Linked DNA regions of Homo sapiens: region 2 is linked to region 1. The links come from fine-mapping of genetic effects on gene expression. A gene starts in region 1. The other region holds a variant in brackets. All regions are shown on one strand. Distances are from middle to middle. Region 1 holds the start of ZFYVE19 (zinc finger FYVE-type containing 19). Region 2 has its middle 1.6 kb from the start of PPP1R14D.

What was found. PIP is the estimated chance that this variant, and not a neighbour inherited with it, causes the effect.
Region 2: its variant is fine-mapped to the expression of ZFYVE19 in caudate (GTEx, PIP 0.91).

The regions. Positions count from the first base shown.
Region 1 is chr15:40,805,643-40,808,547 of GRCh38, reverse strand. It overlaps ZFYVE19 (zinc finger FYVE-type containing 19), which reads right to left and starts at 1,459. Exons shown (of 11, transcript NM_001077268.2): 1 at 680-1,459. The coding sequence starts at 958. It overlaps DNAJC17 (DnaJ heat shock protein family (Hsp40) member C17), which reads left to right and starts at 1,075. Exons shown (of 11, transcript NM_018163.3): 1 at 1,075-1,179. The coding sequence starts at 1,102. RefSeq lists enhancers at 427-476, 1,107-1,156, 1,197-1,246, 1,707-1,796.
Region 2 is chr15:40,828,842-40,831,746 of GRCh38, reverse strand. No RefSeq gene overlaps it. Among named protein-coding and RNA genes, the nearest start is that of PPP1R14D, 1.6 kb to the right of the region's middle. The variant T/C (reference allele first, on the strand shown) is at 1,420.

The sequences.
Region 1 (2,905 bases):
AAGGTCACCGCCTCAATAAGACAGCAGAGCTCAGATTTGAACGCTGACTCCAAAATCCAGGTTGGTGAATGCTGCACGGTCCTGCCTTCCTGCGTGACACTAATTTACTCCATCTAGTTCCCATCATCTCCTGGTCAGAATCCCTGGCCACAACTGAGGCAGAGGGAACCTGCAGTTTACCAGAGGAATCTGGCAGGTCTGTGATAGGGACAGGACAGTCAGCCTTCACCATGGTGCCCCGGAAGCAGGAGGAAGTGTGGTAATCTAACTCCAGCGACCTGGAGAAGGGCAGGCTGCGGGATGGGGAAGATTTCAGAGCAGAGGGAGTAACGGGCTTGGTGTGATGGACACCGCGCTTCGGAGGAGCAGGGTGGAGAGAAGAAAACCGCCAGATGCTACACTGGGCCGACAGAAAAGAGTAGCTTTGCAAAAACGACGGCAGCGCGCTTTACAGTTTATAGGGAACTCTCACCTAAAGCACTTCAGTGGACCCTCACATAAACCCTGAAAGCGAGAGAATGTTAGCCCCATTTTACAGAAATGGAAACTGAGGATCAATGACTTCATCAAAACCACACAGCTGGAAAGGAGCCGTAAGACCAAGTCTTTGGACGTTAAGTCCCGCGCTTTTCCCTCCTCTCCTCCCTGGCCCTGCAGCCCTCGGGGAGGGAAGACTCGCCTCCTTCTTGAAGAGGGTGAACTTGACAGCGCAGCCGTAGCACCTACTCTCCATGGTGGCTCCCAGCACCGCAGGGTCTGCAGAGCTGAGATCACGCCGGCCAAGTCCTGGGCCCCTTGGACCCTCACCCCAGCTCCGCCCTTCCCTTCCCTGCCCTGCCCCGCCCCACACGCCCACTGGCACTGTCCCGCCGCGACCTAGAGCAGGGAATCCGGACGCTCTCCTGCAGCCAGCGTACGGCAGCGGCGGCAACGGGGGCTGCTGGGAGTCGTAGTTCATTCACGACTGCCGGCCTCCCTCAGAGTCAGTCAAGCCTGACCCAGAACACAATTCCCAGAGGGCTAGGCGCCGCTCGGAGCCTGCAGTCCTCACGCGCGCTTAGACTCTTGGGAGTTGTAGTACGAATCCGTCAGGCCGGAACCATGGCAGTGACCAAGGAGCTCTTACAGATGGACCTGTACGCGCTGCTAGGCATTGAGGAGAAGGCAGCGGACAAAGAGGTGAGAACGGTGGCGAGGAAGGCTGATCTTGAGAGGTCTGGCGGTCCTTCCTGTCCTAGCGCCTCGGCCACTGCTGGCATCCGCTCTCCAGGTTCATTCGGGTCCTGGGCGGGGAGCGAGGGTCGGCGCTATGCCCTCCGCAGGCGGGCTCCCAGACATTTCCTGGACGGTCCGAGGGCCTCAAGAGGAAGCGGGGTACAGAGGGCTCTTCGCGCCGGGTGGCTGTGCTCTCCCCGTGGCCCCTGTCTCCTAGAGGCCGCGGGGCGAGGCAGCAAGGAACGCTAGCCTCCTCTGCGCCTGCGCAGTCTCGGCCTCCGTTTCCGCTTCTGCCTTGACTGTGACAAGAGGTGCCTCATTTCAGTCTCTTCTGCAGGCTGATTTAATTCTTCCACTAAGAGCCTAGAACGAAAGAAAAGTAAGATCTCAAAGCCTCTCCACTCCCTTTTCATGCCCCCTTGCCAATGTGACCGATGACCCTGCTGTCTCTATTTTCTTTTCCACTCAAGCCCATTGACTCTTTTCAAGTAGCTGATGCCCTTCTCAGCATGTGCTAGTTAGTGGGCTAAAAGCAGGAGGATCAGAAGGTTAAGGCAGATGGTATAGAGGTCCATGCTACCTTAGGTGGTGATAAAGATGCCAGGGAGTGAAACACTGATCAAGCTGGATTTAGGATTTCTTTTATCTCCCCCTGGATCATGGTGGTAGTTTTAACAATATACGAAGGAGAGGCGTTCATCAAATGAAAATTAGTGCCCAACTGAGCCGAGATCGCGCCACTGCACTCCATCCTGGGCGACAGAGCAAGACTCTTTCTCAAAAAAAGAAAGAAAGAAAGAAAATTAGTGTCTACTAGGCCGGGCGCGGTGGCTCACGCCTGTAATCTCAGCACTTTGGGAGGCCGAGGCGGGCGGATCATGTGGTCAGAAGTTCGAGACCAGCCTGACCAATATGCTGAAACCCCTTCTCTACTAAAAATACAAAAATTAGCCGGGCGTGGTGGCACACACCTGTAGTCCCAGCTACTTGGGAGGCTGAGGCAGGAGAATCACTGGAACCCGGGAGGCGGAGGTTGCAGTGAGCTGAGATTGCACCACTGCACTCCAGTCTGGGCGACAGAGCGAGACTGTCTCAAAAAAAAAAAAAAAAAAGGAAAAAAAAATAGTGCCCACTAATGTCCCAGTACTTCTGGGCTGCCCTGCTCATGGGGTGAGTGAGCTTTTGAGAAGAGGAAGCTCTGGGGCAGAAAATCAGAGAGACCCAGAGGGCCCTTGAGAAATGCTGTCAACCTGCACAAATCTGTCCCCTGCAGCCGCAGCTGAAATCAGAAATGGCCATGGGATGTCTATGAAGCATCAAAAGCATCTGCTCCACCTCTCTCGTGTTTCAATATTTTAGGATTAATAATTCCTAACATCTGTATAATGCTTACTATGTCCTAGACAGTATTTTTTTTTTCTGGATAGTATTCTAAGTGCTCTATGTTTACAAATTATTATTTTTTAAATTCTTTATTATTATTATTTTTTATTATTGTTTTTGAGACGGAGTCTCGCTCTGTGGCCCAGGCTGGAGTGCAGTGGCGCGATCTCGGCTTACTGCAACCTCCGCCTCTCGGGTTCACGCCATTCTCCTGCCTGAGCCTCTCCAAGTAGCTGGGACTACAGGCGCCTGCCACCATGCCCGGCTAATAATTTTTATTTTTAGTAGAGACGGGGTTTCACCGTGG
Region 2 (2,905 bases), 23 kb before region 1:
GTTGTTATTGTTGTTGTTGTTATTTTTTGGGGTTTTTTTGAGACAGAGTTTCGCTCTTGTTGCCCAGGCTGGAGTGCAATGGCACGATCTCAGCTCACTGCAACCTCCGTCTCCTGGGTTCAAGCAATTCTCTTGCCTCAGCCTCCCAAGTAGCTGGGATTACAGGCACCCACCACCACGCCTGGCTAACTTTTTGTATTTTTAGCAGAGATGAGGTTTCACCATGTTGACCAGGCTGGTCTGAAACTCCTGACCTCAGGTGATCCACCCACCTCAGCCTCCCAAACTGTTGGGATTACAGGTGTGAGCCACCGTGCCTGCCCTTTGTTTAGTTTTTACAGAGACAAGGTCTCACTATGTTGATCAGGCTGGTCTTGAACTCCTGACTTCAAGCAATCTTCTCGCCTCAGCCTCCCAAAGTGCTGGGATCACAGGTGTGACCCACCGTGCCCATCCTGTGGCTCTTGAATAACCACTGAGCATAATGTTTGGCCTACCAGGGGAGCTCATAAAATCTTTGTTAAATGAGTGAGTAAATAAATGAACAAAACACAGTGACTCTTCTCATCTAGTTTCTTTTCCCGAAAGGGCTCTCAAACCCTTCAGAAGATAGGAAACAGAAGAGGCAGGGAACTACCATAATAATGCCTCCTGGCCACAGACTGTTAAAGTGACAGCTGAGTCAACAAGATGCATCCTAGAGGCCCCCCTCCTCCTGCTCAGGAAGAGAGCCACACTGATGAAAGCCCAGGCATTGACCACCAGAGCCTCGCCAGGAGGGCAGGGAGAGTGGGGAGGTAAATAAAGGACAGGAATGAATGTCTACTGACAGGGACTCTGTTTCAGATGCCATGCTAAATGTTTACATGCATCATCTCATTTTATCTTCCCAACAAGCCCAATCTGCAGATGTGAAAACAGGCTATGAAACTTGGCCAAGGATTATAAAACCAATGCAGGGCAAAGCTGAGTTGAACTCAGATTGTCAGCCTTCCTCCAAAGCCTGGGCTTTTCCTGGCTGCCATCTTAGTTTCCAGCCACTCAAACACCTCCCTTATCTTCTTAAGTGAGGGCCTAAAATTTCATCATTAAACTGTCATCCATTCGCCTTTTTCCTTTTTTGAGACAGGGTCTTGCTCTGTCACCCATGCTTAAGTGCAGTGTTGCCATTGTAGCTCACTGTAGCCTTGAACTCCTGGGCTGAAGTGATTTTCCCACCTTCCAAGCAGCTAGGATGACAGGTGTGCACCACCATATCTGAGTAATCTTGCTTTTCATTTTTTACTTTTTTTTTTTTTTTTTTTTTGAGACGGGGTCTTGCTCTGTCACCCAGGCTGGAGTGCAGTGGCATGATCTCGGCTCACTGCAACCTCCGCCTCCTGGGCCCAGGCGATTCTCCTCCCTCAGCCTCCTGAATAG[T/C]TGGGGCTACAGACGTGTGCCACCACGCCCGGCTAATTTTTGTATTTTTAGTAGAGACAGGGTTTTGCCATGTTGGCCAGGCTGATCTCAAACTCCTGACCTCAAGTCATCTGTCCACCTCAGCCTCCCAAAGTGCTGGGATTACAGGCATGAGCCACCGTGCCTGGCCCATTGTTTACATTTTTTAATGGAGACAAGATCTCACTGTGTTGCCCGGACTGGTCTTGAACTACTGGCCTCAAGCAATCTTCCCGCCTGGGTCTCCCAAAGCAGCTAATTTTTTGTATTATTATTATTTTTTTTTTTGGTAGAGAGAGAATTTCACCATTTTGCCCAGGCTGGTCTTGAACTCCTGAGCTCAAGCAATCCACGCGCCTCGGCCTCCCAGAGTGCTGGGATTACAGGCGTGAGCCACCATGCCTGGCCCCATTTTAAAAAAATTACAGGCTGGGCACGGTGGCTCACTCCAGTAATCCCACCACTTTGGGAGGCCGAGGCGGGTGGATCATGAGGTCAGGCATTTGAGACCAGCCTGGGCAACATAGTGAAACCTCGTCTCTACTAAAAATACAAAAAATTATCCGGGCATGGTGGTGGGCGCCTGTAATCCCAGCTTCTTGGGAGGCTGAGGCAGGAGAATTGCTTGAACTTGGGAGGCGGATGTTGCAGTGAGCCAAGATCGCAGCATTGCCCCCCAGCCTGGGTGACAGTGCGAGACTCCATCTCAAAAAAAAAAAAAAAAAAATTACAGTGTTCTTCTGTCACTTTTTTTTTTTAAAGTTTAGAAATTTTCATTATAAAAGACTAAACAAAAATACCCTGCCTTAGAATGCAAGTATGTATGCCTGGAAGTATTAGTCCCTGACACCTGTGTATAAGTTAGGTTTGCAGGTTTCCTCTGTGTCAGCAAATACATGAATCGGGGGAGGGTCACGTGGTAATAAACATGGCTTCCTAAGCAGTTGCCTCAGGGGAGCGGGCATAGTAGACAAGTCTTGATAAATTTGCCTTTACAAGCAGGTAAACTGCCTTTATAGGCCAGGCTGATAGCAGTTTACATTCGGACACACCCAGACACTGGGGGCACTGGTCCTACGGGAGCCATCAATAACTGACCTCCAACTCTATCTACCAGCTGGGGCTCTGCCCCCAGTAGTGCTACGCTCTGAGTAAGAATCCCTGCCAGCCAGGGACCCTGCTTCTGCGGAATCTGACCACAGCTTCTCAGAGCCCAGAGTGGATCCAGCCCCAGGAAGGTGGGATACAGAGGGATCTCAGGTGAGAACGACTCAGGTCCCATTCCAGAGCTGGCCATAGAGCAGCGATTGGAGCCCTGTACCCTTCAGGACCCCAGGGCCCCTTCCTCCTCCCTGGGCATGGCAGCCTCTTGACCTTTGCTCATCTGCAGTTTATGCCACTTTGGGCCCTAGAAGCTGCAGAAAGGGAGGCTGGGGCATGGCTCTGGAGTGCCACTCACTGGCTGGCA